Regions from separate parts of the Homo sapiens genome. Here regions 1 and 2 are each linked to region 3. The links come from fine-mapping of genetic effects on gene expression. A gene starts in region 3. Each other region holds a variant in brackets. All regions are shown on one strand. Distances are between the middles of the regions. Region 1 has its middle 21 kb from the start of COL6A3. Region 2 overlaps MLPH (melanophilin). Region 3 holds the start of COL6A3 (collagen type VI alpha 3 chain).

Region 1 (9,952 bases), 21 kb after region 3:
TGGGATTACTGGCATGAGCTACCACACCCAACCTAGCATCTGACATTCTCAACACTTCTTCCATTGCCATTCTGAGCTTATTCCTTGGGCTTAAGATGATCAGGATGTCAGAAATTTGGATCTATAACAAGGAAAAAAAGAGCTAACTTCTTGGTAGAACTTGACAAACTGATTCTAAAATTCACAAGGTACCCAGAATATCATGTAAAAGTAGAGCAGAGCTGAAGGACTCACTCTTCCTGATTCCAAAACTTACTACAAACCAACAGGAATCAAGACCACATGGGACTTACATAAGGATAGACATATAGATTAATGAATCCAAAAAGGCCCAGCAATAGACTCTTACATTTATGTTTAATTGATAACTAAACCTTTACATTTATGTTCAACAAGAGCACTAAAACAACTCCAAGGGAAACAGTTGTCTTTTCCATCATTCTTGGGAAAACAAGATATCCACATCCAAAAGAATGAACTTTGATCCCTACCTCACCTCATATACAAAAATTAACTCAAAATGAATCAAAGACCTAAATGTGGCTTGATGCAGTGACTCATTTCTACAATCCTAATGCTTTTGGAGGCCAAGGTGGGAGGATCACTTGAGCCCAAAAGTTTGAGACCAGCCTGGGCAACATAGTGAGACCACGTCTCTACAAAAGAGTTAAAAAATTAGCCATGCATGGTAGCACACAACTGTAGTTTCAGCTACTCAGGAGGCTGAGGTGGGAGGAGCTGGAGCCCAGGAGGTTGAAGCTGCACTGTGATCACACCACTGCACTCCAGCCTGGACCATGGAGCAAGATCCTGTCTCAAAAAAAAAAACAAAAAAACAACTAGCCATAAGAGCTAAAACTATAAAAACTCCTAGAAATAGATATAGGGGTATATCTTCACAACCTTAGATTAGCCAATGGTTTTTTTTTTAGATATGACACATAAAAAAAGCAACAAATAGAAAAATAGAAAAATTGGACTTCATCAAATTTTAAAACTATTGTGTTTCAAAAGACACTTTTAAGAAAGTGAAAAGACACCCCACAGAATGGGAAAAAATACTTGCAAATCACATATCTCATGAGAGATTTGTATCTAGAATAAATTATGAGTTCTCACAACTCAATAAAAGATAAAAAAAACCCAATCTGTAAAATGGGCAAAGCGCCTAAATAGACATTTCTCCAAAGGAGATGTACAAATGACCAATAAGTGTATGAAAAGATGCCCAATGTCACCAGTCATCAGAGAATGACAAATCAAAACCACAAAGAACTACCACTTCCAATTCACTAGGATGACTTAGATAACAAGTATTAATGAGAATACAGAGAAACTGGAACTCCCACACACTGCTGGTGGGAATGTAAAATGGTGCAGCCACCTCAAAAAAAAAAAACTTTCTGGCAGTTCCTCCAAAGGATCAACATAGAGTTATCCTATGACCCAGCAATTCCACCCCTAGCTATACACTCAAAAGGATTGAAAACAAATGTTCACACAAAAGCAAAACAAAAAAAATGTTTATTTTAGTAGCATTATTCCTAATAGGCAAAAAGTAGAAACAACCCAAATGTCCATCAAGTGATGAATGATCAAAATGTATTACATCCATGCAATGGAATATTAATCATCTATTAAAAAGAATGAAGTATTGATACACGCTACAACGTGGATGAACCTCAGAAACATTACGCCAAGTGAAAGAAGGCAGTCACAAAATATCATGTGTTCTATGATTCCATTCCTATGCAATGTTTGAATAACCAAACCTGTAAAGACAGAAAGGTCAGTAGTTGCCTAGAGCTGGGGAGCAGGAGGCAAGCGGAATACAGTGAGATGAGATGAAGTGAAATAGGATGAAATGAAATCATGCATCTTGTGCATTGACCCAGCAATGGAGAAGTGGGGGGCAGGCTGCAGGCTGGGGGCTGTCACTGGTCTGAAGGAGAGGATGTGGATTGTTGGCTACTCCATCTGACCTCCAATTTCTCTGTGGTGAAATGACAATAATGCCCTCATCTTTCCGGCCTCCCAGGGTTATCATGGAGATTGGTTGAGAGGAGTAAGTAGAAGAGATTAAAGGCCACAGAATGTTTTAGCACATGTAACAAATAAAGAGCCTTGGAACTTCACAGCCATTCATACTGTTCTCTTTGCCTGGAACATCCTCTCCCTCTTCTCCACCCAGACACTTAACAATCACTTCTGCTGTGCAGCCGTCCTTGGCAACCCAGACAGAGTGATGCCCTCCTGCAACAGGGCTGCCAGCAGGAGTGTACCCGACCTCCGTGTCATCACTTGTGCACACTGTGATAAGACCATGCACCTCTCGCAGACAGGACATGAGCTTTCACCTCTCTGTGTCCAGCCCACTGCTGACCACAGCACTGCAGGAGGATGAGCCCCTGCAGGAAGGAATGCTGGCTCTCTGGGGTAGATAAAGAAGGTTCTGGGGAAGGGAAGGGAGGAACAGGAACATGGGCTCCCTGCCAGGCTGTCCCAGGTCCGGGATGCCATCGGCAAGTGGGCGGGGACAGGCCTGGGTAGATGACATGGTAGTGAGTAAGTGGGGAGGCAGGCCAGCAGAGGAGCCAGGCTCACCTCCCGCCCGCCCACCTCGGCCACAGACCGGGAGGGGTCGGAGCACTGCGTTGGGGTTGATGAGCAGACGACTGCCAGGCAGCCATTCACAGGAAATGGCACAGACGCACATTGTTCCAGCTACCCCCCATCCTCCCTCAGGGGCAAAGTGAATGAGATACTCACCAAGGAAGCCGTTAGCAAAGGCGGACACTGATTCATGGTTTATAAGCAATGGTGAAGTCCTTTTTCCACTGGCTGCAGCCACGAATGGCCGAGAAGCTGTAAACAGTAACCGTAACCATGCATGAGCATCCCTACCTCGCTGTCTCCTCAACTCACCTCTCCAGCCCCGAGCGGGGTCACTGAGCATTGGAGAACTGCCCCGTAGCTTCTCACCTGCACGTTGGCAGTCTGCGTCCCCAGGAAACACACATGATCACTTTCTCAGACACCCAAGACCTGCATCAAATCTGCCAACTAAACTCTGGGAGGGGTGGCGAGTGGGCTGCAAGCCTGTTTCTTAGAAAGACAGTGAAGGAGAAGATAACAAGGCCTCAAGTTTGCCCAATAGGCTTTCTGGACAGCAGCATGGCCGGGAACTTGGTGGCAATAAGGTTGATGGCATCATTGCTTTACTCATTCATTCATGCCACTAAGCTGTCCCTGAGAGCTACCATGTGCCAGACTGTGCCATGGGCTAAAGGTACAGAAGGTACAGAACACAGATGGCTGCGTGTGACTCTTAGTGCAGGGGAAGGACTTTGCACTCTCAGGACATCCTCTGCACCCTTTTGCCACCTTCAGACTCCCAAGGAAGGAAGCCCATCCAGGTGCCGCCAGAGAGAGGTGCCTGGTAATCATGTCTATTGATGGCAACCACAGTGGAGATCCCGGAGCACAGGAGAAAAAAGCCCAGGAACCTTCCCTTTCCAGAATTGTCTGGGCCAGGCTGAGCTGCCCGGATGGCTTACAGCTCTGCACTCTGTATCATGGCTAAGGATGAGGGCTGTGATGGGTGATGGCCACATCATTGGCTACTCCCCCTCCAGCCCCTAGGATTCATTGTCCACGGGAGAGCCCATCTCCCAGCTGCTGCAGGTGCTGCTAAGCGCTCGCACAGGTAGCCTTCCCTGGAGAATCATCCCTAAGCAACAGCGGCCCCTCCCCAGAGGTCCCAAGAACTATGTCTCCCTCCAGAGAAGGCCCAAAGCCAAAGACTGGCAAAGGGAAGGCTGCCAAGCACTACAGGGCAAATCTAATGAATGCCCCTGAGCAACATGAGAGCCGGCTCGGCTGCACTTCCCCTGCACACCCCTTGCCCCACTTCCTCCCCGACCTCTCCCGCTCCCCTCCCTCCTGTGCTAGCTTCTCCCACAGCATCCATATCCCTTGATCAGTCACTTGCACTGAGAATTTGTCTCAGGCACTGTTTCCACGGAGCCAGACCTAAGACAGGTGTAAGCCAGAGGGTCTGGATCAAATCCCAGGTGTGATAAGTCACCGGGGGCCAAGTACTCAACCTCACCAGATCTCACTGTCTTTCTCTGTAAAATAAGGATAATAGTCACACTTGCACATAAGGGTGCAGTGCAGAGTGCATGCGTGCATAACACTTAAAGTAATTGGAACACACCTGGCCCATCAAAAGCACCTGGAGGAGACATCAGTTCTTACCACTGTAGCCAGAAGGTTGTCTCTCTGAGCTACAAATAAGACACTGGACACCCATTTAGTCAACCTTCTACAGACGATCACAGCCCAACCCAATCAAGCACCTACGTTTCACATTAGGCATGTCCATTTCAGGGTGTCTTATCCAGCGGCTGAGTTTGAAGGATCATTTTCAGGGTGAAAATTGGAAGAACTGATGAAGCTCACAAAAGCAAATAAATAAGCACGGCTTTTGCAGGATGCTTCCAGCAGAGCAGTGCTGGCAAGCCTGGCTGCCTGTCAGAGCCACTGGGGGGCTTATTAAAACTGCTAGCTCCCCTCCACCACCATCCCCCACCCCTTCCCTAGCTCCGCCCCTGAAGGTCTAATTCAGTCTAGTCAGCTGGAGTCATAAAAGCCTTCCTGGAGAAGAAGACACCTAATCTGGGTCTGGAAGGATGTGTGGGAGTTGTTCAAATGGAGCAGCCGTGCGGGGGCAGGACATCCCAGCACAGGGGACTGTGAGAGCCACGACGTGGGCCCTGGAACCCTGTGGTAGATGCAGAGAACCACAAACATTTCCGTACGGCTAGAAAGCGAGTGGGGGTGGCAGGAAGTGGTGGGAGGGGCTCACGATGCCAGTAATGACCATATTCAGGGGTGCTCCCGAGCCCTCCTTCCTTATGCCCCACGTGCTCCCACATCACCCCAGGAGATAATAAACGAAGGCGTGCACATGGGGGTCAGGCCCCTGGGAGTCAACAATGACTTCGGAGACCTCAGAGAGTCTGCAAGAAGCTTCCCTGGCTGCGTCCCTTGCCCCTTTAGGACCTGTAGGGGCCGTCTTTGCTGGGTGAGGTGCAGCTGAACTAAGGGTGAGCTGCTTTCCTCTGCCACCACAGGACTCAAATCCCATGGGGCCCCAGAGCAGGTGGACGGTGGTCCCCTGGCTTCTGCATGGCTGTGCCAGCCCACCCTTACAGGGACAGCATCACAGGCAGCAGAACTTCCAGCATTCTCA[A/G]AGGAGCTAGAAATTCCACCTTTTTTGTGAGATTTGAATTTTTACATGTTGGAGCAAATTTTTTCTCTGAAGCAAAACACATTTGCAGAGTCGTGACCTCTGCCAGGGAAGTGGGACAGAAGCTGGAGCCAGAAGACCTGAGGACAGGTCTCAATTCTGTCCCCTGGCTCACCAACAAGGGAGGGGTGGGCCACAGGGTCTTTCAGTGCCTTCCCAGCTGGACATTTCTGACCTCTCCTCTTCTCCTCTCCAAAATAAAAAAAAAAATCCTTAAATTTTCTAACCACCTCGGTGTAATTTTACTAGAGCATTAACTGAATTATAAATGTGTCTATTCAAACAAGGGCCTGGCCAGTGAAATTTTAACCAACTACCTGATTTCCAACTGTTTTCCATTGACCCATATATTAAAATAGTAGAAGGCCTTGGTCTCATGAGGCTTCTGGAGAAGCCTGCACGCAGCAGGAATGACACCCTGGTTGTGGAATTTCACTAGGCAACAGGCTCCAAACAGAAAATGTTAGCACTTTTGAGGACAAATAGTGTTTCTGGTACACTCTCTCCCCACCCCTTTCCTTTATCTAGTTTCTGCTCTTTCTTTGCTCTTTTATTTTTACTACTCCTTTTAAGAGTTCGTGTGTATTTTTACTAAACTTCAGTAGTACATATCCCCTCGCCAAAATGCTCCCTTCTCACTTTACACACTGCTGAAAATTATCATGCTGGCCCCTTCCTTGGAGTACAGTTCTGCCCTGTTGAAATGCTCACCCAGGAGGGGGCACCGAATTCCTGCTTTGTCACCAGGGACTGGGTGTTCAAAGAGTCGTTCATGGGGTGGGGCGTGTGGCCATGCCAGATAGCTGGTCAACCCCGGAGGAAGGCCAGCCCCAGGAGGGAGCAAGTGCAGTGTAGGGTCCAGCCAAGGGTTTATGAGCCTGAAGATTGGTTCAGGCAGCGGCGCCATCCTAAGGGAAAAACAGATACACCTCGAAGAGAAGCTGCTCCACCACTGCACCTGCTCTGTGCCACATGGAGGGTAAATGTCTGCTAAATGAACGCAAATGAAGAGGTCACCCCTTCATACTGTTGACTATCCCACCTGTGAGGGCCCAGGAGCAGAATGGTCACCTGGAGATCCAACAAGGTGGCTGTTTCCTTCATAGTCATCAGTAAGACTCTGCAGAAAACTCACTCCGCAGGGATTAGGCCAAAAAGAGGATGTGTCAGGAGTTTACAGGGTACCCTGGGTTGAATGGTGGCCCCAGAAAGGTATATCCATGTTCTAATCCCTAAACCTCAGAATATGGCCGTATTTGGAAAATGGGTCTTTCAGGTGTAATTAAGAATTTCGAGGCCAGGCGCGGTGGCTCATGCAGGTAATCCCAGCACTTTGGGAGGCTGAGGCGGGTGGATCGCCTGAGGTCAGGAATTTGAGACCAGCCAGGCCAACATGGTGAAACCCCGTCTCTACTAAAAACACAAATAATTAGCCAGGTGTGGTGGCACACGCCTGTAATCCCAGCTACTTGGGAGGCTGAGGCCAAGATTCACTTGAACCCAGGAGGAGGAGTTTGCGGTGAGCCAAGATCGTGCCACTGCACTCCAGCCTGGGTGACAAAGAGAGACTTTATCTCAAAAAAAAAAAAAATTTTTGAGATGAGATTATCCTGGACTGCCTAGGTGGGCCCTAAATCCACAAATAGTGTCCTTAGAGAGGGGGAAGAGAGAAGACTTGCAAGGGGAGCAGGAGGGGAAGGTCCTGTGAAAATGGAGAGATTGGGGCCGAGGAACACCAGAGCCACCAGAACCAGAAGAGGCAGGAAGAATTTTCCTCCAGAGCCTCTGGAAGGGAGCACAGCCCTGCCCACACCTGGATCTCAGACTTTTGGACTCTAAAACTGTGAGAAAATACATTTCTGTCATTCTAAGCCATCACGTTCATGGTGATTTGTTATGGCAGCCACAGGAAACAAAGAGAGGATGTCACCCTTAGAAGGGGTCCCATGGCACCTTGCCCAGTGAGGACAGGAGCTCAAATAGGACATGGGGAGGGTCAGAGAAGCAGCACTGGCTGGGGGTGATCTAAGCACCTGAGCCCATTTCTGTGGGCAGCCCCAGAATCAGCCATGGTCAGTGGACCAGAGAAAGGCCACTCCATGGAATAGCTTTTGGGGACCCAGGAGCCCGGTGGGTGCTGCACCTGTCCAGGACAGCTTGCTAAGGCATCAGTCATCACCAGAGTGACCCGCAGGCTGCCAGCTCCAGATGGTGTCTGCCAACCATCCATCCACAACGTGAGCCCATCAAGGCCCCCATCCACTCTGAGCCTCTCAGACCTAACTGTTCAGGCACCCCGGGGAGACAACCCCACAGCCCCGCAGGCCACTTTGTGCCTGGATTTGAGGAAGAAAGGAGCTGCTGTACTTAAACTCTGGGGCCAGGCTGCATGATAAACCCCTTCAAAGCAGGCATGAGTGCAGAGAATGCCCTGTTACATTTTATTTTTGAATTTCTAATTTAAAAAAATACACAGGGGAGTCCTAGTTTTAAGATACTGGAGTAGAAGCTTTTCCACTCCCAACTTTTCTCAAAAAGCACATTTTAGCAAGGAGAACAGGGAAATAGGGACACAAAAGATATTTATAACCCCAGTTCACAACGTGAAAGCAGGAAGCAGGCAGATGAATGGGAAACTTACAGCAGGGCCAGAGAGGGCGGGACTTAAGGCCGGTGGGAGAGAGAACAATGAGAAGCATATCCAGGAAGGCTTGGGAACTGCAGGTGACAGGTACCTGTGCAGGTAACTGCAGGTGACATAGCCTGTAGATCCTCCACCCAGGAGGCGAGGGCAGGGGTTGCTGGAAATAGCGCATGGTGTAAACATCTGTACAAGGAGCCCTCTGGCCTGGGTTCCACATCCAGGTGGCCCCAAGATGCTGAGACAGGAAGTTTATTCTCTGGGGAAAGTGAACCAAAGGAACCAAACCTGCAGGCACATTGGGAGAAAAGAGTGGCTGGACTGAAACCCAGCGGGCCAGGAAATTGTGCATGCCGAGCATGGAAATTCCCAGTCCTGCCGTCTCACCCAGATCACCAGTAGCCCTTGCCCCAACCCAGCTGGCAATCAGAGAGTCCTTTTCTACAGAAACCAAACTGCTCCAGAGAAAACAGCCACAGAGATTGACCACTGGGGGTTCCTAATGAACAAGCCAGTTGGCCTGCAGCTCACCCTGCAGTAAAGCCCAAGTTACTCATGTTTAGAAACCCTCCTACCATCATCCTGAGGCCCCAAATTTACATATGTGCCTGCCATAGAAGTCAAAGACCAAGGACAATCAACAAATGGGGAGGGGGAGGAGTTAAAGTAAGCAATAAAGAGAGCAGAATAAAACTTCAAAAAACACTATATTTTATAACCTCAAAGAAAGAAAAAATAATGCATTCTTAAAACAAGAGCAGGATGTTATTTTAAATTTTTTTAAAGGCAGAATATTTAACTGCCACTTTAGTTAAAAACACAAGGATCAAAAGCAAAAAAAATAGGCCGGGCACGGTGGCTCACACCTGTAACCCCAGCACTTTGGGAAGCCAAGGTGGGCAGATCACCTGAGGTCAGGAATTCAAGACCAGCCTGGCCAAAATGGTGAAACCCTGTCTCTACTAAAAAATACAAAAATTAGCCAGGCGTGGTGGTGGGAGCCTGTAATCCCAGCTACTTAGGAGGCTGAAGCAGGGAGAATTGCTTGAACCTGGGAGGCAGAGGTTGCAGTGAGCCCAGATCACTCCACTGCACTCTAGCATGGGCAACAGAGCAGGACTCCATACCAAAAAAAAAAAAAAAATAGCAAAAAGGATAGACAATAATGTTGAGAAAATCTCCAAGAAGGCTGAACAAAAATAAAAGGAATTTACAATGGAAGGGAAAAGATAAGACCATTAAAGGATCAATCTATTCCAGAAGCCTCAAAATGGAGAGAAGAAATTATTAAAGAAATAACACAAGAAAACTTCCCAGAATTGAACGACTTGCATTAATAGATTGAAAGGGTGGCCAGGCAAGGTGGCTCACACCTGTAATTCCAGAACTTTGGGAGGCCAAGGTTGGAGGATCTCTTGAGCCCAGGAGGTCGAGGCTGCAATAAGCCTTGATTGGACCACTGCACTCCAGCTTGGATGATAGAGCAAAAGCCTGTCTCAAACAAAAAAGAAAAAAGAAAAGAAAGAAAAAGAAAAGAAAATATAAGGAAAAAGAAAGGGCCTAAAACAACCAACCATTAACTCTTGCTATGCCTCTTGAATCCCATGTTATAATAGGACATGATGCCCTCATCTTCCCTCTGCCCCTCCTCAGCACCTTCCACCACCCCACTCTGTGGAATCATTGCTCTTATTTTATTATTTTTAAAAATTTGGGAATATTAACATTCAATGCTGTTTCCATATGGAGTAAATTATCCAAAAATTGAATCTGAAAGTTAAAAACCTATCACTGCTACACACAGATATCACACACACACAATGTAAATGTGTGTCACTGCACAGCTGAGTAGGGTGCTGGTGTTGCATTTCCTTCTCTGGAAGGCCAACAATGCAACTAAAAAGGAATTGTCTCTGGACATGAGTCCTTTTTGCACTCTGCTAATTGCCTTATATCTTTGCAAGACCCTCCAGGATCTCAATTGCTTTATCTCTTTT
Region 2 (9,952 bases), 89 kb after region 3:
CCCGGTCACCGAGTCTTAAATATCTGAATCAGCAAGAGGCTGGATGAAGAAACTGGTGCTCGAGGGACCACTAAGTAGGTGGCGGTAACAAATGTAGCAATTCAGGAGCCGCCCAGCAGTTTCCCATGTGTCTCACAAACTCTGAGAGGGAAGCCCGTGGGCGCGACCCAGCCCGAGGAAACTCAAGGCCACTGATTGGAGAGAGGAGAGAACAGGGGTGGGGGAATTGTGAAACCAAGAAACACACCATCGTTTCTTGGAAAGAGCTTTACTACCCAGAATATGCATCAGGGGAACACAGCATGCAGACTCAAGGCCAGTGCCCCAGAAACAAGTTTGCCAGGGGGTTGATTTGCTTAAGAGCGGATTCACTTAATGCACCAATTATCAAACCAAAGAAAATGCATTTCTTTTAACAGTCTTAAAATTAGCAGATGTGTGTCAGATGGATTCCTGCTCAGTATTTCTCTCCAGATGTGAGCATCAATCACGTTGAAGGACGCTGGGCAGGGTCTGGAGGTGACGCCTGCGCCTTTTCCCACAGCGTCAGAACAACACAACTTTGATTTCTCCTCTGTCAAAGCAGGGACAAACAAGCTGGTCCAGATCCCTGATATGCTGGAGGAAGGAGGGCATGTGACCCTGAGACCCCCATGAGCAGCATCCTGTCCCCAAGCCACGGAAGCTCCTGCTCCCTTGGCCAGGCCTGCCCCTCCCTCCAAGCTGTGCTGTGGACATTCGGTGACGCACACGCCTGACAAGGCTCTCCTTGCTGGCCCTTAGGAGGGATCGGTGAGAAGGAAGGGGAAGCCAGCACGTCTTGATCTAGCCCAGGCAGGCATAATCTCTCTCTCAAGTCATCTGTGCCACTAGGGATTTGGGAATGGGCTGTTTGCTATATAGAGTGGGAGGGCTGTTCCTGCCTCCCACGAGGACACAGTGCTGTGCACCATAGAATCGAAAACTTGAAGATGTACAAAATTAGGATGTTAGCACCACTGGCATCAGATAGGCATTTTAGGATAGATTTGACTTAACACCCATGTCCTATCCCAGGAGCTGCCCGATCAGCAGCCCCTTCTCAGCCTTTGTCCCTCCTGACCCTCTGCTTGTCCTGGGTGTAACTTTCCCCACACTCTCTTGACTTTACTCTGTGGTTAGTTTGAAGCCTCCTCTTTTTCCCGCTGGCCCATTATTGGAATAAATTGCCAATGACAGATCTTCCCGGAGGGTTTCGTCCATATGCTTTCATGGATGGATCTTTTAAATGGTCAAAGAACAGATAAATCCTGTGTGATTTAAACTGCTTCACGGCAGAGTGTTCACTAGCCTCGCCCTGACACCTCATATTGATGAAGATAAAGAAAAATATATACATAGCCCTGTTAAATCATCATATAAATAGACCTAAGGCTGCACTGTCCAGGACAGAAGTTACTAGCCACTAGTGGCTATTAAAATTAATTATAATTAAATAAAATAAAATTATAATTAAATAAAATTTAGCTCTTCAGTCTTATTAGTCACATTGCAGGTTTTTGATGGCCACATGTGGTTAGTGGCCACCATATCAGATCTTTGCAGAGGCCCATTTGGACTAAGGTAGCAAAAGTCTTAAAAGTATGCTCACCTGTTGAGCCAGCAGGTCCTCTGCTGGAAGTCATCATAAGGAGAGAATCAGACAAGGGTTACAGGAGAGAAGAACTAGAAAGACCCTAATGTCCAAATGTTCAGGCTTTGGTTAAATACCAAATTTAACAACGGATTTAACAATAGGTTGCTCAGCACCCAATGAAAATAATGATAGAAATAAATTGACATTAATAGTTCACAAGACATTGTCCAGTAGAAAAAGCAAGTTGTGAAAATGTAATTTTATCCCATTTTACTTTTTTTTTGTTTGTTTTGTGAGACAGGGTCTTGCTCTGTTACCCAGGCTGGAGTGCAGTGGCGTGATCATGGCTCACTGCAGCCTCGACCTCCCAGGCTCAAGTAACCCTCCCACCTCAGTCTCCTGAGAAGCTGAGACTACAGGCATGCATCACCACACCTAGCTAATTTTTTAAATTTTTTGTAGAGATGGGGTCTCTCTATGTTGTCCAGGCTTGTCTTGAACTCCTGGGCTCAAGTGATCTTCCCACTTCAACCTCTCAAAGTGCTGGGATTACAGATGTGAGCCACTACACTTAGCCAGATTTTACTTTTTTAAAAAAATACGTAGAAAAATCCAATAATGGTAGCAGAAGCTCAGCACTCATTGAGCCCTCTCTGGATGTGGCTCTACGTCGTGTGTTGGAGTCTAGTCCCTTCTCTGTCTCCTTTGCTGGAACTTCTTGGACTCTTTAAATATTCCCTTTCGCAGGGTCGAGGGCCCTGGCCTCAACTCTCTTCTCTGCTCTGTGTCACTCACTTCTCCAGTGACCTTGTCCAGCCCCAAGGTTTTAAATGAGTTCTAGACCAGCACTGCCTGATGGAACTTTCTACAGTGATGGAAATGTTCGTATCTGCATGACCCATGTGGCAGCCACTAGCCACCCAAGGCTATGGAGCACCAGAAGTGTGGCTAATGCAACTGGGGAAAAAAAGTTTTAATCGTATTCAATTTTAATTAATTTAAACGTAAATAGCTGCATGTGCCCTAGCAGCTAGGAGCTACTACAGCAGCTAGACAACACATCTAAACAATGAGTCCCAAGTTTACACCCACATCAGAGACACATCCTCTGAACTCTGACTTTTGTAGGCAAAGGCTTGCACGACACTGCGGCCAAAGTGTTCCACTGACATCTCTGTCCCAGCATGTCCAAAACAGAAGTTGTGATTTCTCCTCCACCTCCAAGCACCCCATCCCCATCTTGGATGCAGGCTGTTGCCAAAGTTAAGTTCCCAGGACTCATGGCTGTCTCTGCTCCTTCCCTCTCACCCCACACCCCACACTCAGCCAGTCCCGTGGCTCAACCAATACAGCCACTGCTCACCGCCCTCAATGCCAGCCTCAGGTCACGCCACACTGTCTTTCTTGTGGACACCACAGGAATCCACCCCACACACACACTTACTCTTCTCTCCCTCCACCCTCACCGTCTTGTTGTCCATTCTCCCCACATCCCCCAGACTCATGCCTTAAAAATGTGGATCAGGTCATCCCCCGGCTCATAACCCCCACAGAGCTTCCATCACATTTACGATGAAATTCGCCCTCCTCACCCCTGCTCACCGTGGGACCTCACTCCCTCCTCCATTTCCTCCTTAGCGCTTCTCCAATGCCCAGTGAGTCATTTCCTTGTTAGTGTCTTATCCCTGCCGGCATCTAAGCCCCATGAGGGTTCTGCTGCTTTGGCGCTGTGTCACCAGCCCCCAGCACAGTACTGACCATGGAACGACTCCACAGCTCTCTGGGCTCACATTGGATGATGACCTCTTTCAGCTTCATCTCTATTGTCTCCTTTAACCCTCAGACACCCCTGTGATGTGGTTACTTTTACTGGCCCCATGCACAAGTGAGAAACTGAGTCTGGGGCGGGTTACCCAGCTGTGATGAATATCTGGTAAATGTTTACTTTTAGCATTCGCGGGTCTATCTGCAGTGAGTGAGAGCTTGCTGTGTATTGGTGTATTGTCTCGTATTATTGTTCCTCTCATCTCCTATTTCCCCCATAAATATATATTACATCTAAAATAATTCACTCTAGGCCAGGTACAGTGGCTCACACCTGTAATCCCAGCACTTTGAGAGGCCGAAGAGGGTGGATCACCTGAGGTCAAGAGTTCGAGGCCAGCCTGGCTAACATAGTGAAACCACGTCTCTACTAAAAAAAAAAAAAAAAAAAAAAAAATACAAAAAAATTAGCCAGGCATGGTGGCAGGTGCCTGTAATCCCAGCTACTCAGGAGGCTGAGGCAAGAAAATTGCTTGAACCTGGGAGGCGGAGGTTGCATGAGCTGAGATCGCGCCACTGCACTCCTCAAAAAATAATAATAATAATAAATAAAATAATTAGATCTAATTCCTTAAATATCTAATGTGTGTTAAAACTTTTCCGCTCATCTCCAAATAATGTCCAGACCTTACACTTGCTTGCTGTATCTTTTAAGTCTCTTTGAATCTGTAAGATCTCTTTTCAGCTCTGTTTTTTTAATTTGAAGCTTATGTGTAGAAGAAAGCTAGCTGTTTACTTTTGTGGAATTTTTCACAGTCTGGAGTTAGCTGAGGATATCCTCGTGATGTTTGCACCAAAGTTCCATTGTCCCTGTTTTCCTGTAATCTGGTGGTGAGTTCCATAGAAGTGGTCCTCAGAGTGCTCTCATCTTGAGTGTTTTAGATTCATTCATATCACTTGGGTATTAAGAAGGTTTTAAGTACAGAAAAGATTATCACATGTTATTATTTTTTAATGTTCTACAAATACAAAGTAGGGCCAAAGTAAACCTTCTTGAAGGGAACATTGGTTAATAGTCACAGCTTTTAACTCCTTCTGTCCCCAGAAGAGCCCAGAACTTCTTAGGCACCCATCCCTGTCCTGGACCCAAGGGACCTGGGGCTGTGCACAAAAGGAGCAGGCCTCCTCCTGGGCACCCTGGAGCTTGCATTGGTGCTGATTTGTGTCTT[G/A]CTTTGTATCATGCTTGTGTCAAGTTCTCCCAGTAACTGCTTTCTGCATTTGTTAGGGTAGCCCCTCAGCTGTGGTTATGGTAGAAATTAATGGATATTCTCCAAACCCAGGAAGAACTAGGAGACCATGCATAGCCGGACTTGGGTGACTCATGCCCTGGGGGAAAGGCTGAAGCCCAAACGGAACACCCTGTTTTAAAGGACACAGCCTACAAATCAAATATTAGGACTGCCAACCTGCCCTGGAAAGGCAAATAGGTGGTGACGTGGATTTGTGATCTCTGCAAACAGAGGAGGTTCAGAGAGAATCTGTGAAGGGTCTCCTAGTATGAGACACGGGCAAACCGTGGCTTGCTTTAAAAAAAATTTTTTTTTGACCAGGCTCGGTGACTGATGCCTGTAACCCTAGCACTTTGGGAGGCCGAGGCAGGTGGTTCACCTGAGGTCAGGAGTTCGAGACCAGCCTGGTCAGCATGGCGAAACCCCATCTCTACTAAAAATACAAAAATTAGCCAGCCATGATGGCAGGCGCCTGTTGTCTCAGCTACTCAGGAGGCTGAGGCAGGAGAATCGCTTGAACCCGGGGGGCAAAGGTTGCAGTCAGCCAAGATCACACCACTTCAGTCCAGCCTGGGCAGCAGAGCGAAATTCCATCTCAAAAATAAATACATAAATAAATAATAAAAATCCATTTTTTTGATCATAAGGAATTTGAAATCACCCTTAGCCGGACTAGTTGGAATCACGGACACAGGCAACTCTAGAGATGAAAAAAATAGGGGCTAAAACAGGGACTCCGCTGCCAAGGCAGGGCCTGGAGGGGAACATTGGTCTGAGATGTTTTAGGAGATACTCTGAGGCTCCGTCTCTCAGCGCCTGCCGTTCTCACATCACCACTCACTTCCTCTTCATCTTTTTTATCGTCATCTTGGTCTTCCCCTTTAGAGGATCTCCAGGAACTTGAGTGAGTTTCCAGCTCCCTCGTGGTAATTCCCGACACGCGTTCCCAGGATGAGGAGCCTGGGTCCCCGGTGCTGCTCCTCAGCAATGCTGCCGTCTTTCCGTCCTCTGCCAGCCGTTAGCCCTGACGTGAGGTTTACTTTGGTTGCCACGCTTTCAGTCATTTGGCCCCTGGATCCTGTGACTCACTGGATCTTTTGTGCTCCAGTCCCCAACTCAGGGTCACCCTCAGGAATCATTTCTCCATTACCTGGGGTCTGTCCTCAGGCTGTTTTCTCAGGCATGGCATGGAGTGTGGATTTTGTCTTTGAGGATCTGTTCCACTTGCCTGGGAGTACAATCTGACCTCACACGCTTTCCCCTACAGGCTGTGGGGATGCTTACCGGTGGTAAGCAGAATAATCCCCCCCAAAAAGATGTCTACTTCCCAACCCCAAGAACCTCTGAATTCGTGAGGCTATACAGAAATGGGATTATGCATTTTAGGCTGCCCACCTGCTGGCCTGGACCTGGGAGATGATCCCGGGTTCCCTGGGCGGGCCTAATATCATCACAGGGGCCTTAGAAGCAGAAGGGATGGCTGGTTTTGAAGATGGAGAAAGGGGCCAGGAGCCCACATACCTGAAGCCCTCAAGAAGCTAAACTGCCAGAGAGCAGATTCCCCTCTGGGGGCTCCAGGAGGTGCCACAATCCTGCCGACACCTTGATGTTAGCTCAATGAATCCTGAGTCAAACTTCTGCCCTCCAGAGCTGTCAGGTAATGCATTTGCATTGTTTTTGTATTGTGTTTATTTTATTTTATTTTGTTTTTTGAGGTGGAGTTTTGCTCTTACTGCCCAGGCTGGAGTGCAGTGGCGCAATCTCAGCTCACTGCAACCTCCACCTCCTGGGTTTAAGCGATTCTCCTGTCTCAGCCTCCCAAGTAGCTGGGATTACAGGTGCCCACCACCACACGGGGCTGATTTTTTGTATTTTTAGTAGAGATGGGGATTCACCATGTTGGCCAGGCTGGTCTCGAACTCCTGACCTCAGGTGATCCACCCACCTTGGCCTCCCAAAGTGCTGGGATTACAGGTGTGAGCCACCGCAACTGACCAGCATTTGCATTGTTTTAAGCCATGGAGTTGGTGGAGCTCTGAAATGGCAGCAGTTGGACGGGAGCCACTGCCCCACGGCCAGCCCTCAGCCTTGCAGAAGGGCCCCCTGCATGACCTCCACTCTGTTGGAGGCCGCCGGTTCTGTCCACCATGCTGGTAGGGATTTTGCCCGCCCTATAACAGAGTGGTCTTGTCAGTCTGTGTAGGCATCTCCTACCATCCAGCGACCCCTCTAATCTGAAGACTCAGCTCTTTCTTTGTTTCTTCTCTCTGGTTAGGAGAGTTTTCCTGTGTTGTTAGGGTGACGGCTGCCTCAGTGGCATGGCAAAAACTCATGGTCGAAAACTTCACCCAACCAAGCCGTGCAAAGGAAATACAGGTCTTTTATTTCCCATCTGCTCCCCCTCGTGAGACCCCACCCCTTGAGCAGCAAGACAGTGCAAGCTTCAGGGCTTCAGATCTCCCAGACTCTGCTCACTTACCGGGTCTCTGTTCCTGGCTCAGCTTCTCTTCCAGAGCTCCCCACAACCCCACCTCTGCTCCCCAACCCATGCTTTTGGCCAGGCCAGCAGCTGGGCCTTGGGAGAAAGGCTCATGACCCTCCCGGTGGCCAGGTTGATGGGGTCTGGACTCCACACACTGTCCCCACCTCCTTGCTGGTCCTGATGCAGAGTGGAGGGCAGGTCAGCTTGCAGGATGGGGACCGCTGGCTGGTATGTGAAGGGTACTGGCCGGGCACTGAGATACGGATGGCACCCACCACTGAGACCCTGATCCCAGCCACATACCCACGTGCTGTGGCCTCTTCCACCAACCCCAAGCCTCTGCCAGTCCCCTGGCTGCTCCTCATCGCATGCAGTCCTGCTGGAGCATGGTTTAAGGATCACAGGGATGTGGATTCCCCACCACCCCAGCACCCAACGCAAGTGGAGGCCCACAGGACCCCTCATGCAGGCTCTTCCCCCGCCTGTGTGCTGGACCTTGGGGATGGCCACAGTGGGAGCTTCCCCCTGCTGTGCCTTCAGGGGTGGCCACCAGCCCCGCCATCCTGGGCTCTCCCCAGTATTCCTGCATGTTGCCACCACACCCCTGTCTAGATTTCACCCCAAGAGGGGCAGAGCAGGGCACAGGTCTGACCCCTTCACCCTGCGTGGCTCACCAATCCTGTCCAGACCCCATCATAGGAGCGGCCTTTCCTTCCTGTTCCCGTCCTAGAAGCGTTTTCCTTCCCTGGTATACGCCCTTTCTTCAGAGGCTGCCGGGCCTCCCTTGAGGACAGGAGTGCCCCCTTGGCTCTGTTCTGCCCCACCAGTCACAGCTCTGGCATGCGTGTCCCAGGGCCCTCTGGAGGTGGGACTGCAGAGGACAGTAATGTGGGTCCCCTGCCCCAAGGACAAGGACAGCACTTCCCTTCCACCCCCATGCATCCCCGTCTCCAGGGCTCTGTCTCCCCTGGGAGCTCACTTTCTCGGCCTTTGCCATCATCTCCCCACTGTCTCCCATCGCTTAGTCCCTTTTCTCCACATTCTGGGAGGGAGAGCAAACTTGACTTCGAAATCAGCAGTTCTCAAACCTTTGGGCCTCAGGACCCCTTCACATTTCCTAAATTACTGAGAACCCCAAAGAGTTTTATTCATATGGGTCATATCTATTAATATTTACCACATCAGAAATTAAAACTGGGAGTTAAAAATATTTATTTATTCACTCATTTAAAAATAACAGTAAACCCCCTACATGTTAATATAAATACAGTTTTTATAAAAAATGAGATTTTCCCAAAATCAGAGTGTGAGTAAGGTGAGTGGTGTTGTTCTGCTTTTGCAAATCTCTTTAATGTCTGTGTAGCAGGACAAGCCACAGACAAGAACTCCTCAGACACCGAATTGTAGAAGGAAAGGGCTTTATTCAGCTGGGAGCATCGGCAGACTCACGTCTCCAAAAACCAAGTTCCTCGAGTGAGCAATTCCTGTCCCTTTTAAGGGCTTACAACTCTAAGGGGGTTCATGTGAGAGGGTCATGATCGATTGAGCAAGCAGGGGGTACGTGACTGGGGGCTACATGCACCTGCACCAGTAATTAGAATGGAACAGAACAGGACAGGGATTTTCACAATGCTTTTCCGTGCAATGTCTGTAATCTATAGATAACATAACTGATTAGGTCAGGGGTCGATCTTTAACTACCAGGCCCAGGGTGTGGCGCTGGGCTGTCTGCCTGTGGATTTCATTTCTGCCTTTTAGTTTTTACTTCTTTTTTCTTTGGAGGCAGAAATTGGGCATAAGACAATATGAGGGGTGGTCTCCTCCCTTATCTGGAACAATAGAAGATGGGTGAATTCTCCACTTGCTTCTGCATTCAGTGGGTCGTAACATGTTTTCTAGGCTGTAGTATTTGAAGAAAATCTAGGCTCATACAGATACATAATTGAAAAAAGGAGTACTTGAATAGCCTTTGTAGACAATAATTAACATCATGTGTTGTTACAACATGAAAACCCGGCAGTTGGAGTTGGTAGTTTTTTTCCTTTTTCTTTTTTTTTTCTTTTTTTTTTTTTTTTTTTTTGAGACAAAGTCTCTCTCTGCCACCCTTGGATGGAGTGCAGTAGCGTAATCTCGGCTTACTGCAACCTCCACCTCCTAGGTTCAAGCGATTCCCCTGCCTCAGCCTCCTAAGTAGCTGTGACTACAGGTGCGTGCCACCATGTCTGGCTAATTTTTGCATTTTTAGTAGAGACAGGGTTTCACCACATTGGCCGAGCTAGTCTCAAACTCCTGACCTCAAGTGATCTGCCTGCCTCAGCCTCCCAAAGTGCTGGAATTACAGGCATGAGCCACTGCGCCCGGCCAGTTGGTAGTTTCTTAAAGGTTAGTTGTGATGTGGAATCTGAAACCATGTTAATGAACTTTTCCTTTTCTGTTTGTTCAAATCCATTGGTCTCTCTTGCACTTGAAGTGGATTTTCTACCCCTGTGTGATTTTTGTAACACCATGCATTAATCATTTGGAAGACACCGGCTCACTGAGTGATGCAGACTTCTCAAATGTTGACACATTTCATATGCACACCAAAAGAGAACCACTTCTGTTACTCTCACCAGCGATCTCATCAAAAGTCTCCCGGTGTTGGAAACCCTCATCAAAAGTCTCCCAGTGTTGCAAACTGTCAAGCTCACAGCAGGCGATATATGTTTTCCAGAATTCTACTTTGTGCTTGAAAGCTTCCGTTTTATTACTGGCAATAAATACTGTCACTTCTTTTCCTTGAAGTGAGAGTCGCACTTTGTT
Region 3 (9,952 bases):
TTCAATTAGCCAAACAGAAATTATATGTTTGCCAACCAGAAGAGAGGGGGCTATGTCTTAGTCATTTTTTTAATATTCCCCAAGAATGTATTCTCTTTTTTTATTATTTTATTATTATTATACTTTAAGTTTTAGGGTACATGTGCACAACATGCAGGTTTGTTACATATGTATACATGTGCCATGTTGGTGTGCTGGACCCATCAACTCGTCATTTAGCATTAGGGATATATCCCCTCCCTGAACCTCAGGGCTCAAGGCCATGATGCACAATAGGTCTTGTTAAACTTAAGTAAACATGAGAACACAAAGACCAACCAAAGGGTTAGGTTTTTGTTTTTTTTGTTTGTTTGTTTGTTTGTTTGTTTTGCTCTGAGCTAGAATTGTCTCCCTCAGAGTCTTAATGCTGGTTATCTCAAGCGAACAGACATAAATCTGAGAGTCAGTAATATATATTTGTATTAATAAATATTCAAGACGAGACATTCATAATCATAGCTTGTGTGAATTTTTAAAAGTATGTTAAAACCCATTGTCCATTATTAGGGGAAAGTATCAAAGGACATGTCACGAGCACCCTTACAGTTCTAAAATCCGGTAATTCTACAGGGATACGCAATGGCATGAATATGCAAACCTACTTTGGTTCTCAAGCACCCGACTGTTCATTTAAACCTCTGTAATTAGATATGGGTAAAATGCTTCCTATAAAATGTCTTATTTGCTGAATACCCTTGTAATGCAATTGTTTGGGAACAAAGATGCCTCCTTTGATGGCACAATTTCATCTCAATACACTTACACCTGAGCAGAGAAGAAAAACAAAGCTCTAACGTATGTACACTTCCGTTATTATGAACAGCCACAATAAATATAATAATGACAATCATGTATTGAAATATCAGTCCTAAAACTGCCCGCAAGCTCTGCTGAGATGGTCATCACTGAGTTACTACAAACCCTGAAACTCCACCCTGGGAGACTCCAGGCACCACTTCAGAGATTTTTCTGAAGCTCGCAGAGATACACCTCCCTCTAGAGGAAAGAAAACCAAACTGCCTTTTCAAAAACAGACCAGGATGAACGTGCTAACTCAAAATTTCTTTTCTTTTTTTTTTTTTTTTTTTCTGAAACAGGGTCTGGTTCTGTCGCCCAGGCGCTGAAGTGCAGTGGCATAGTCACGGCTCACTGCAGCCTCAACCTCCCAGGCTCAAGTGATCCTCCCAACTCAGCCTCGTAGCTGAGATTACAGGCACATGCCACCATGCCTGGTTAATTTTTTAAAACGCTTTTGTAGAGACAAGGTCTCCCTATGTTGCCCAGGCTTGTCTCAAACTCCTGGGCTCAAGCGATCCGCCCACCTCAGCCTCCCAAAGTGCTGGGATTACAGAGATGAGCCACAGTGCCCAGCCCTCAAAATTTCATCTCTTTCCCAAAATGGACTATAAGACCAGAATGTATTAAAAATTATATTTTTCAAAATTAACAAAGTGAATTGTTGAAGGGAATATCTCTGCAAAATCAGGACCTGTGGAATACTCCCTGGAAATAAGACATTCATGACCACACATTAGAGGGGGCAAGCAACATGTTTTATTTAAAGAATAGGATTGTCCTTTCTTTGCACTGAATTTTTACACTGAATTCCACTGAAGTTTTACAGTGGAAACAGAGAAGCTGTATCTAGAAACGGGAGAATGAAGATAACCATTCTTGTCTAGTTCATGGCTGTCTGAATTAGTAGGAAACTTTAAAGCTCCCCCACTTTAAAATTTGGAGGGTTTGCGGCTTTCATTTTCTTAGCTAGAGCTAATAGGATTTTCTTTAAATGTCAGGTCCCTCCTCAAATCGTCAGCTATTTATGTAGCAGTGATGTGTTTTTTACTGCCTGCTTGCTGCAGCCAGGACACCATGAAAAGTTTGCTCCCGTAAGTCAGGGTGGAAAAGCTGCCTGGTACACAACATCCCTGTCAGATGGAAACCGCCTGCAATCCTTCCCCCAAGAGATAGCAGATTTTCAGCTTCTTCCAAAAAGAGCAGTGACAAAACTGAACTTTCAAATAAAAATTTTTGCTAAAGCTGTTACTGCGCCTGCAAGGAAGTGTCACGCAATAGTATTCACGACTTGCCGGTGAATTTTAAGTCCTAAACATGGAATTTCACATATAAGTGGGAGGTGATATCAACCGCTGGTGAAGACTACGCTTGATCCAGTTGTCTGAACACTCTGAGCAAGGAAACAAATGAAACCTCGCTGGCAAAAAGTCACTGCCAGCTTCCAAAGCTTCCAAAGAAGGCGGTCTTGTTTCAAGCTGGCTTTAGGCATCCAGGTCTATGGGTTCCGTTCCTGAAACTAAGGTCAGGATGAGCAGCCTCATTGGAACCATAAATCAACAATCGACTGAAGAGAGGAGCTTCTTCCTACTTTCTCATCGGGGACGTATTAAGTTCTAGGATAGGAAATCACAAAAGGCACTGATGATAAAGTCAGTGCAATTTGCTGAGTCCTGAATGCTTTAGAAATAAAATGAAGTGTGAAGTAAAGACAATTTTTCAGAAAGGTGCCTACCTCGTATCAAAAATATCATTCAGACCCCAGGTTTGGACATTTGCCACATGTCCCCTCACCTGTGGGCCACAACTATAGTGGGGTGGAACACGCTCCCTGCCAAGCAGGGAAAGAGCGGGGCCAAGGGCTAACATTCTAGAGGCTTCCCCAGCCACCTCCCAGAAAGGTGCTGTAGCCACACCCTCCAATGCCTGGATAGGAAAAGCCAGGACAGCCTCACTTCACCCCAACATGGAATTCCTTCCCAAGCCCTCTGCTCCACTCAGTGTCTGCTTCCTGGCTTCTCTCGACCATGAGTGAGGAAAGGAGAGAACTAAACCTCTGGGTAGCAAGAAACCCCCTAAACAAAGAAGTCCAGACAGGCAGCTGTTCCTACATCCTGATCTTTGTAAAAGCCACGCCTCCCCACCCAGGCTTTCATCCTCAGCTACAAGCCCACTTCAGAAAGAAGAGCATACAGGTCCCCTCCTTCAGCGCCCTCCACCCCCAGGAGGTGGCCTGAGCAGGGCGGCCAGCCCCGGTATTCCGGTCACGGAACCGATGCCCCCGCCCCACGGTCCACCTCCCTTCTTTCTCGGTTCATTGGTAGAGTCTTAGTGAGCCCAAAGCAGTTTTCCCAACGAGATGTGAGTTATTTGGGATCCTCCGTCACTGGCTTGTCTGCTCTCCTTCAATGGGGAAGGATTTCACTGCCATCTCAGGCACTCGCTCCCTGGCCTGGGCAAGGAATTCCGCATCTCAGAGCCCCTGGTTGCTCATTTTGAAAACCAGGAAACTACTGCATCAGTGGCTTCTGACCAAAAATCTCTTCCATTATCTTTAGCCCAACAAAAACCTCAGAAGTCCCAGTAATGTCATCAACGGCCACCCACTCAGTTTTCAATATAGTTTTGCTTAGGAGCAATGTAACTTTGATTTTAAAGCCATTTCGGTTGTTTTTTACAGCATTAAGAATGGGACCCTGGGGAGCTGGGGGATCCCAGGTTGAGCATCCACCATCCCCGTGAGCTCTGAGCACCCTGCAGCTCTAGCACCCTGTGGTCCTCGCCGGGGTGAGCTGTATGTGGGGAGAGAAGCCAGTCAGCCGGGGCCACAGCCCTGCCTCCCCATCCAGCACAGCAGACTCCCCTGTGCTCAGAGGGGTTTGCTCCTGGGGTCTGCACCGGCCTCGAAACTGGCTCCTGGGGCTTCCTGTGGAAGCAGATTTTTCTTTAACCACTCCCTAGTCCCTCCCAGTGACCCCACCCATACTTCAATACCCGTTCATTATCCAACATAGTAGGCCCCTTGAAACAGGTTCCCCAAACAGGCTGGCCACTGTCAGCGAACGTGTCCATCCTCAGCAAGAGAGGGCCCGAGCCCCACCCTGCATCCTCCGGGCCAGAGAACAGCCCTCGGGGCCTCCCAGCTCGGCACTGGCCTCACCTCTGTGCAGCATGGGCTGGCCCTGCAGCCCCAGGGGCCCTGCCTTAGACACTCAGCATGCTGCCCAAATGCCCAATTCCTTCTTCTCCTCTGACCCCTGCAACTCCTTTAAGCAACCCCAAGGGACAAAGTCTCCAATAGAGACTTCAGGTTCCTGGAAAGACGAAAGCTTGACGGCAATGACTGAGCGACCCTTTACTTGGCCCTGATCCTGAGCACCAGAGTTACTCCAATCTTGTGAAAGCAGCAAATGTGCTCCACCAGGACCTTCCCATGGGCGGCCCTGGGCAGAAAACCCATGCAGGTTGTTGCACCCTGACCTAGTGTCACCACCCAGAGAGCTCAGAGAACATCTCCCAGCGGAGCCGCCCGGCAGGGAGCTATGCTAGTCCTCAGCAAAGACGCTTCTGCAAACAAAGCGGATCCCGAATGGGTTTTAGAAGGCGGCAGTAACTTAAATAAATCATGGGCCGAAACACACTGCCGCCCGGAATGCACAGGGCGCGTGTAGCAGCCACAGACACGCGGTGGAAAAGTGCTCACACTCTTAGGCAATCATGACCTTAACCAATTTAAGGAAATCCCATTGCCATAAAGTGAGAAAGAAAAATCAGCGGAATCTTCCAGAGACCTAAAACATGTACAGAAAACTGGCGATCAGCATGAACGTAAGAGCCACTAACGCTACCTAGAAAGGATCACTTCAGGTTAAGAGCATTTCCTTCTAGCCCCAAACCTGGAAAAACAGAAGAGAAATCACACTTACCCCTGAGCAAACCTGAAGGCGTGTGTCCCTGGGCTCCTCGATTCAATTAGGTTTGAATAGGATGCATACTTTTCCCACTCACTGCGTCTCTTTTTCTTTTTGCAGCCTTTCTCCACCAAAAAAGTGGAGACTCAGAGCTGCGGAGGAAAACTCTTGCAGTCCTTGCAGGAGGCTGGAGCCCAGGAGAACTGAACGGCCTTTGGTGGAAGACTGAGCTCCAAACTGGACTGGGGCCAGGGATACCAGTCAGGGCTTCCTCCAGCTCCTCCTCCTCCTCCTCCTCCCTCCCGGACCCCTCCTCTCCCCCTCCTCACTGCAGAACTGACCCAAAACTGTAAATGAAACCAGACTCCTCCACTCTGTTTCTTCTGGCCCCCGCTCAGGCTGATGTCACCCTCTGAATTCTGTCTTCACCCTACAAGCGTTTAGCTGGACTCCTGCAAGCCCCAACTCTTAAAAAAAAAAATTGACCACTCCTACTCGTCACCTTTTGGGCTGGGCCCTTGGCGTCAAAAAGAATAAATTTTGGAATTTCTTCGTGGGTATCCATGGTTTTCCTGCAATGTTTTCCAACACCATCTGAAAGGAAAACAGGAAATGCAGTCCCCCGCTTACCCTCACCACACCCTCCCATTTCTTCTTGAAGTTTCTGAATTGAGACTTCTACTAATAACTTCCCCCTTCAAATAGAAAAACCAGCAATTAAAATCGCCTTGGTTTTCTGTTAACCAAAGCTCTGTTCACCGGCAAAAAAAAGGAGGCTACATTTCTCTTAATTTCTATATCTAATGATTCTGATTGTGGCGCTTATAGGCCCATTCTAGGCACAGACGGGGTAATAAAAATGGTTATCTTGCCAAAGCTTCGGGAAAATACTTGAGTAAGAACTTCTGTTTCTAGAAAGCTTTGCACATTTCAAAACACTTCAATATACATTCTCTCCTTTATCACAAACATCAACACCCTAAGCCCTTTTAAATAGAAAGATGTCTTCTTTTATTAGGTGAAATTGTGGTCCCATTTTACAGATGAAAGAAACAGGCTGGGCACGGTGGCTTATGCCTGTAATCTCAGCACTTCGGGAGGCTAAGGCAGGCAGATCACAAGGTCAGGAGTTGGAGACCAGCCTGGCCAACATGGTGAAACCCCTACTAAATCTCTACTAAAAATATAAAAATTAGCCAGGCATGGTGGCAGGCGCTTGTAGTCCCAGCTATTTGGGAGGCTGAGGCAGGACAATTGCTTGAACCCAGGAGGCAGAGGTTGCAGTGAGCCGAGATGGCGCCACTGCACTCTAGCCTGGGCAACAGAGTGAGACTCCAAAAAAGAGAAAAAGGAAAGAAAGAAAAGAAATGAAAAGAAAAGAAGAGAAGAGAAGAGAAGAGAAGAGAAGAGAAGAGAAAAAAGAAAAAAAGAAAAGAAAAGAAGAAAAGAAAAGAAGTTCCGAGAGAGTAAGTGACATCGTCATTGTCCAGTCTGGGTTAGTAACAGAGCTCAAATGACAACCCAGCTTTGGCCATCCCCAAACTTCTCACTGCTCTCCCATCATGTGGTCCTTATGAAAAGTCCATTAATGTGAAATATCAAGAGACATCCGAAAGGTTCTTTTTGACTGAGAGATCCTTCCAAACCAAGTTTGAAGAGCAAAGAAATCATTAACTCCTTTCCATGGATTATCTCCCTCCAATTTAGGGAAGAAAGGAGACAGCACCCCAGAGAGAATGCCTGCTCCCCTCTGCAGCTCCAGGGCTCCCTTCCTCTCCCATAAAGAAGCCCAACCCATCTCTAAACCAAAGGGCTCACTTGCAGAGCACTGGAGTAGGGAACAAGGATGGAACCTGAATTATGGGGTTCTTAGGTGAAGACACGCTGAGCAGAGGCTCCGAGTATAGAACCGCGCTGCCTGCATGACATGTAGAAGGACAACACGCCCCTCCAGCGGCATCCAATTCTCTGCCCTCATCCTCTCTGCACAGTGCAGGCGTTGACTCAAGCCCCTACAGAGACCGGGGATACTTGCTGCCACCCCCTTGGTTAGAGTCTGCAACTTCAGCACTAAGGAGGACTATTTCTCCCAGAACATTGTCTGCTGCGAAGAAGACAATCTTTGATTACAACCCCATGCTCCAAGCAGCTCAGCAAACTGAGGTTAACTGAACAAGCACGTTTTAGGTGTTTCCACTCCACGGTTTCTTTCAAATACAAATACACTCTTTTTCGCAAAATCGCTAGGCAGATGCATTCCTTGGTATTGAAAGTTTCTATTACAGTCGACCTCGTATCCATGGGTTCTGCATCCATGGATTTAACCAACTGTGGTTCAAAAATGCTTTTTAAAGTAGATGATTGCATATATACTGAACATGTACAGATGTTTTTCCTTGTCATCATTCTCTAAATGACACAGTATAACAACTGTTTACATGGCATTTACACTGTATTAGGTATTATAAGTAATCTAGAGATGGCTTGAAGTACACAGAAGGATGTGCATAGGTTATGTGCAAATACTACACCACCTTCCTTCAGGGATTGGGGCCTCTGTGGATTTGGGTATCCATGGAGGTTCCTGGAATCAGTCCCCCATGGATACCAATGGATGGCTATATTTAAACAGCAAGGGCAAGAAATCATTTAGAACATGATTTAAAGAAATAAAAGCTCCCATTCAGTAGGAAACCATAATCTTTAATATTTAGCTGCACCTACTCATTGATGATCCAGATCCTCTTCAGCACTGCCCATGGCTCTAGAAACTTCCAGAAACTCATGGTAAACCTCCCTTGTGCTAACAAGAGAGAATTTGGGTTCTATGGCAGCTTTCTTCCTTAATCACCACTATGTGGATTCCCACTTACATTTCCAGTTCCTCTCTGCTACCTGATCCCAGGAGGAAAACAACCTCAAAAGTTTGAGCTGCCCTAAACGTCCTGAGTCCTGGATCTAGGCCCGGCCATCGGTGGGACCTCATAAGTCACTGAATCTCTCAGTTCACCTCATAAGTCACGGAATATCTCAATTCTGTTTCCCCTTCACTGCAGGCTTGAACTGGCTCTTGGCACCTCTTCCCATTTTCTTCCCTTATCTTGTCCTTAACTACACAAGTTAGCAAGTTCAGAACTCCATTTTCCAAGCTCCCTTGTAGCTGTGGCCCTGATGGGGATGGGGCCTCCCCATCCAGATACACGGCTATGGGATTGGAAGGTGGCCTGAGGGATGGCGATTTTCTGAGACTTTGGCTGCCCTTTCTCCTGCGGGCAAGGACAGTGTGGAAGGTCCCATGGGTGCCTCTGCAAGACTCCCCTCAGATGAGAGTCAAATGTTAGTGGTTCACACCCACGCCCTTTCCTGGAGGACTGTTCGTGGATGCTGGGATCTGTCTCTTCTGGACACATTGGGGTGTGTGAGGTGGGTGGAATTCCAAGATGACCCCCAGGAGTCAAGCCCTTGCGTAATCCACCCCCCTTGCGTGCAAATGGAAGCTGAGCCCTGATTCCAGCCTTTGAACACGACAAAAATGAATGGTGTCCCTTCCTGGATTAGGTTACAGTTGGGTCGTGGGAAGTCACCCAGGGATCACAGAAGACTCTGTCTTAGGAAACGGCAGGGAGAGATTATCTTGCTGGCTGCTGGGGTCTGGATGTCATGTCCCCCAAAAATCCATATGTTGAAATTCTAACCCCCAAAGTGATGGTATTGGGAGATGGGGCCTTTGGGAGGTTATTGGGTCGTAGAGGAGAAGCCTTGATGAATGGGATCAGTGCCTTATAAAAGAGGATATGGAGAGACTGCTCCATCCTCCCACCATGTGAGGATACAGAGGGAAGGTGCAGTGCACGAGTTAGGAAGCAGGACCTCTCCAGACACCGAATCTGCGGGCACTTTGATCTTGGGCTTCTCAAACTCCCAAACATGAGAAATCAATTTTTGTTGTTTAAGCCACCAAGTTTAAGACATTTTGTTACAACCATCCAAATGGACTAAGACACTGGCCTTGACAAAGTGAGCCGCCATCCTGTGAGGGCCAATGGCAAGGAAATGTGGGGGCCTCTGGGAGCTGAGAGCAGCTCCTAACAAGCAAGGAAGCAGGAACCCCAACTCGACAACCACAAGGGCCTGACTTCTGCCAACATCTACGTGAGCTTTGAAAAGACTCCGTGTTTCAGAAAGAAATGTAGTCTCCCAAACGGAGGTTTCAGCCTCTGAGACCCCAGCAGAGGACCCAGTGAAGCCAAGCCTGAACTCCTGACCCAAGATACTAAATGCATGTTGTCGTAAATTGCTAGTTTTGTGACAATTTGTTACACAGCAGTTGATAACTAGTACAGGGTTATAGCCCATCTCCCTTGGGGTGGCCCACAGCCAGTGATGTCTGATGTGGGATGTGACACTCCAGTCCATTGCCTCTGGGCCAGAAAAACTTGGCAAGAGGATTCTCACTGCAGAACACCTGCCATGGGACCAGCCTGACTTCTCAGAACCCACTCCTTGCCTGGCTTCTTCTCCTGCCCTCATCCTTCTTCCTGCCTTCCTTCTAGGTTTCCCCTGGGAGCTCTCCCTCAGTAATCGCTTGCACAACACCCTGTCTCAGGCTCTGCTAGAAGGAACTTGAACATACACACAGTCATAGAGAAGCCAATATGAAGACTCCAGCTCCCTGAATGTTAAGAGGCAGTGGCAGACTGTGTAACAGACTAAGCATCCGAGTTCCATCACAGTCTCCAGGACTCAAAGGGAAGTCGCAGCCACAGCAGCAGCATCTGCCACACCCCGCATCCCAGCATCCAGACAGCTGCTGAAGGGTGCCTCGATCTTTGTCCTGTAAACCCTGGATTGCGGCTGTGCAGTGTGTTCCTAAGTTCAGTCTCTCCGGGGCAGGCTCCTGTTTCCCTGCCTCCCAGAATAGACCAGAGGGTTTATGCTGGGATATCCTGGGAGATATTCCTGGAGGGCCAGCTCAAGTCCACTCTTCTCACCCTCCCAACCAGCTCCCAGTGATGGATCTGCAATCATGTTAATAGATTTGCTTGTTGCAGTGAGGCTGGAGTTTCCTCTTATTGAAGAGGAGGTATGTGACATTCCAAAATCAGCTTAAAGTAAAATGCTCCACTGAGGCAACTAGGCCTGTTTCAAGACAAGAAGGATTAGAAGCCCAATCAAGGAAGAGGACTTGAGGCTTCCACTGACCCCAC

What was found. PIP is the estimated chance that this variant, and not a neighbour inherited with it, causes the effect. A credible set is the group of variants that fine-mapping cannot tell apart.
Region 1: its variant is the best candidate, but not a certain one, in a credible set for the expression of COL6A3 in whole blood (INTERVAL, PIP 0.81).
Region 2: its variant is the best candidate, but not a certain one, in a credible set for the expression of COL6A3 in whole blood (INTERVAL, PIP 0.82).

The regions. Positions count from the first base shown.
Region 1 is chr2:237,430,292-237,440,243 of GRCh38, forward strand. No RefSeq gene overlaps it. Among named protein-coding and RNA genes, the nearest start is that of COL6A3, 21 kb to the left of the region's middle. RefSeq lists an enhancer at 2,618-3,124. The variant A/G (reference allele first, on the strand shown) is at 5,258.
Region 2 is chr2:237,497,854-237,507,805 of GRCh38, forward strand. The region is part of intron 2 of MLPH (melanophilin); the gene reads left to right. Among named protein-coding and RNA genes, the nearest start is that of MIR6811, 8.1 kb to the right of the region's middle. RefSeq lists an enhancer at 1-47. The variant G/A (reference allele first, on the strand shown) is at 4,609.
Region 3 is chr2:237,409,193-237,419,144 of GRCh38, forward strand. COL6A3 (collagen type VI alpha 3 chain) reads right to left here and starts at 4,972. Exons shown (of 44, transcript NM_004369.4): 1 at 4,761-4,972.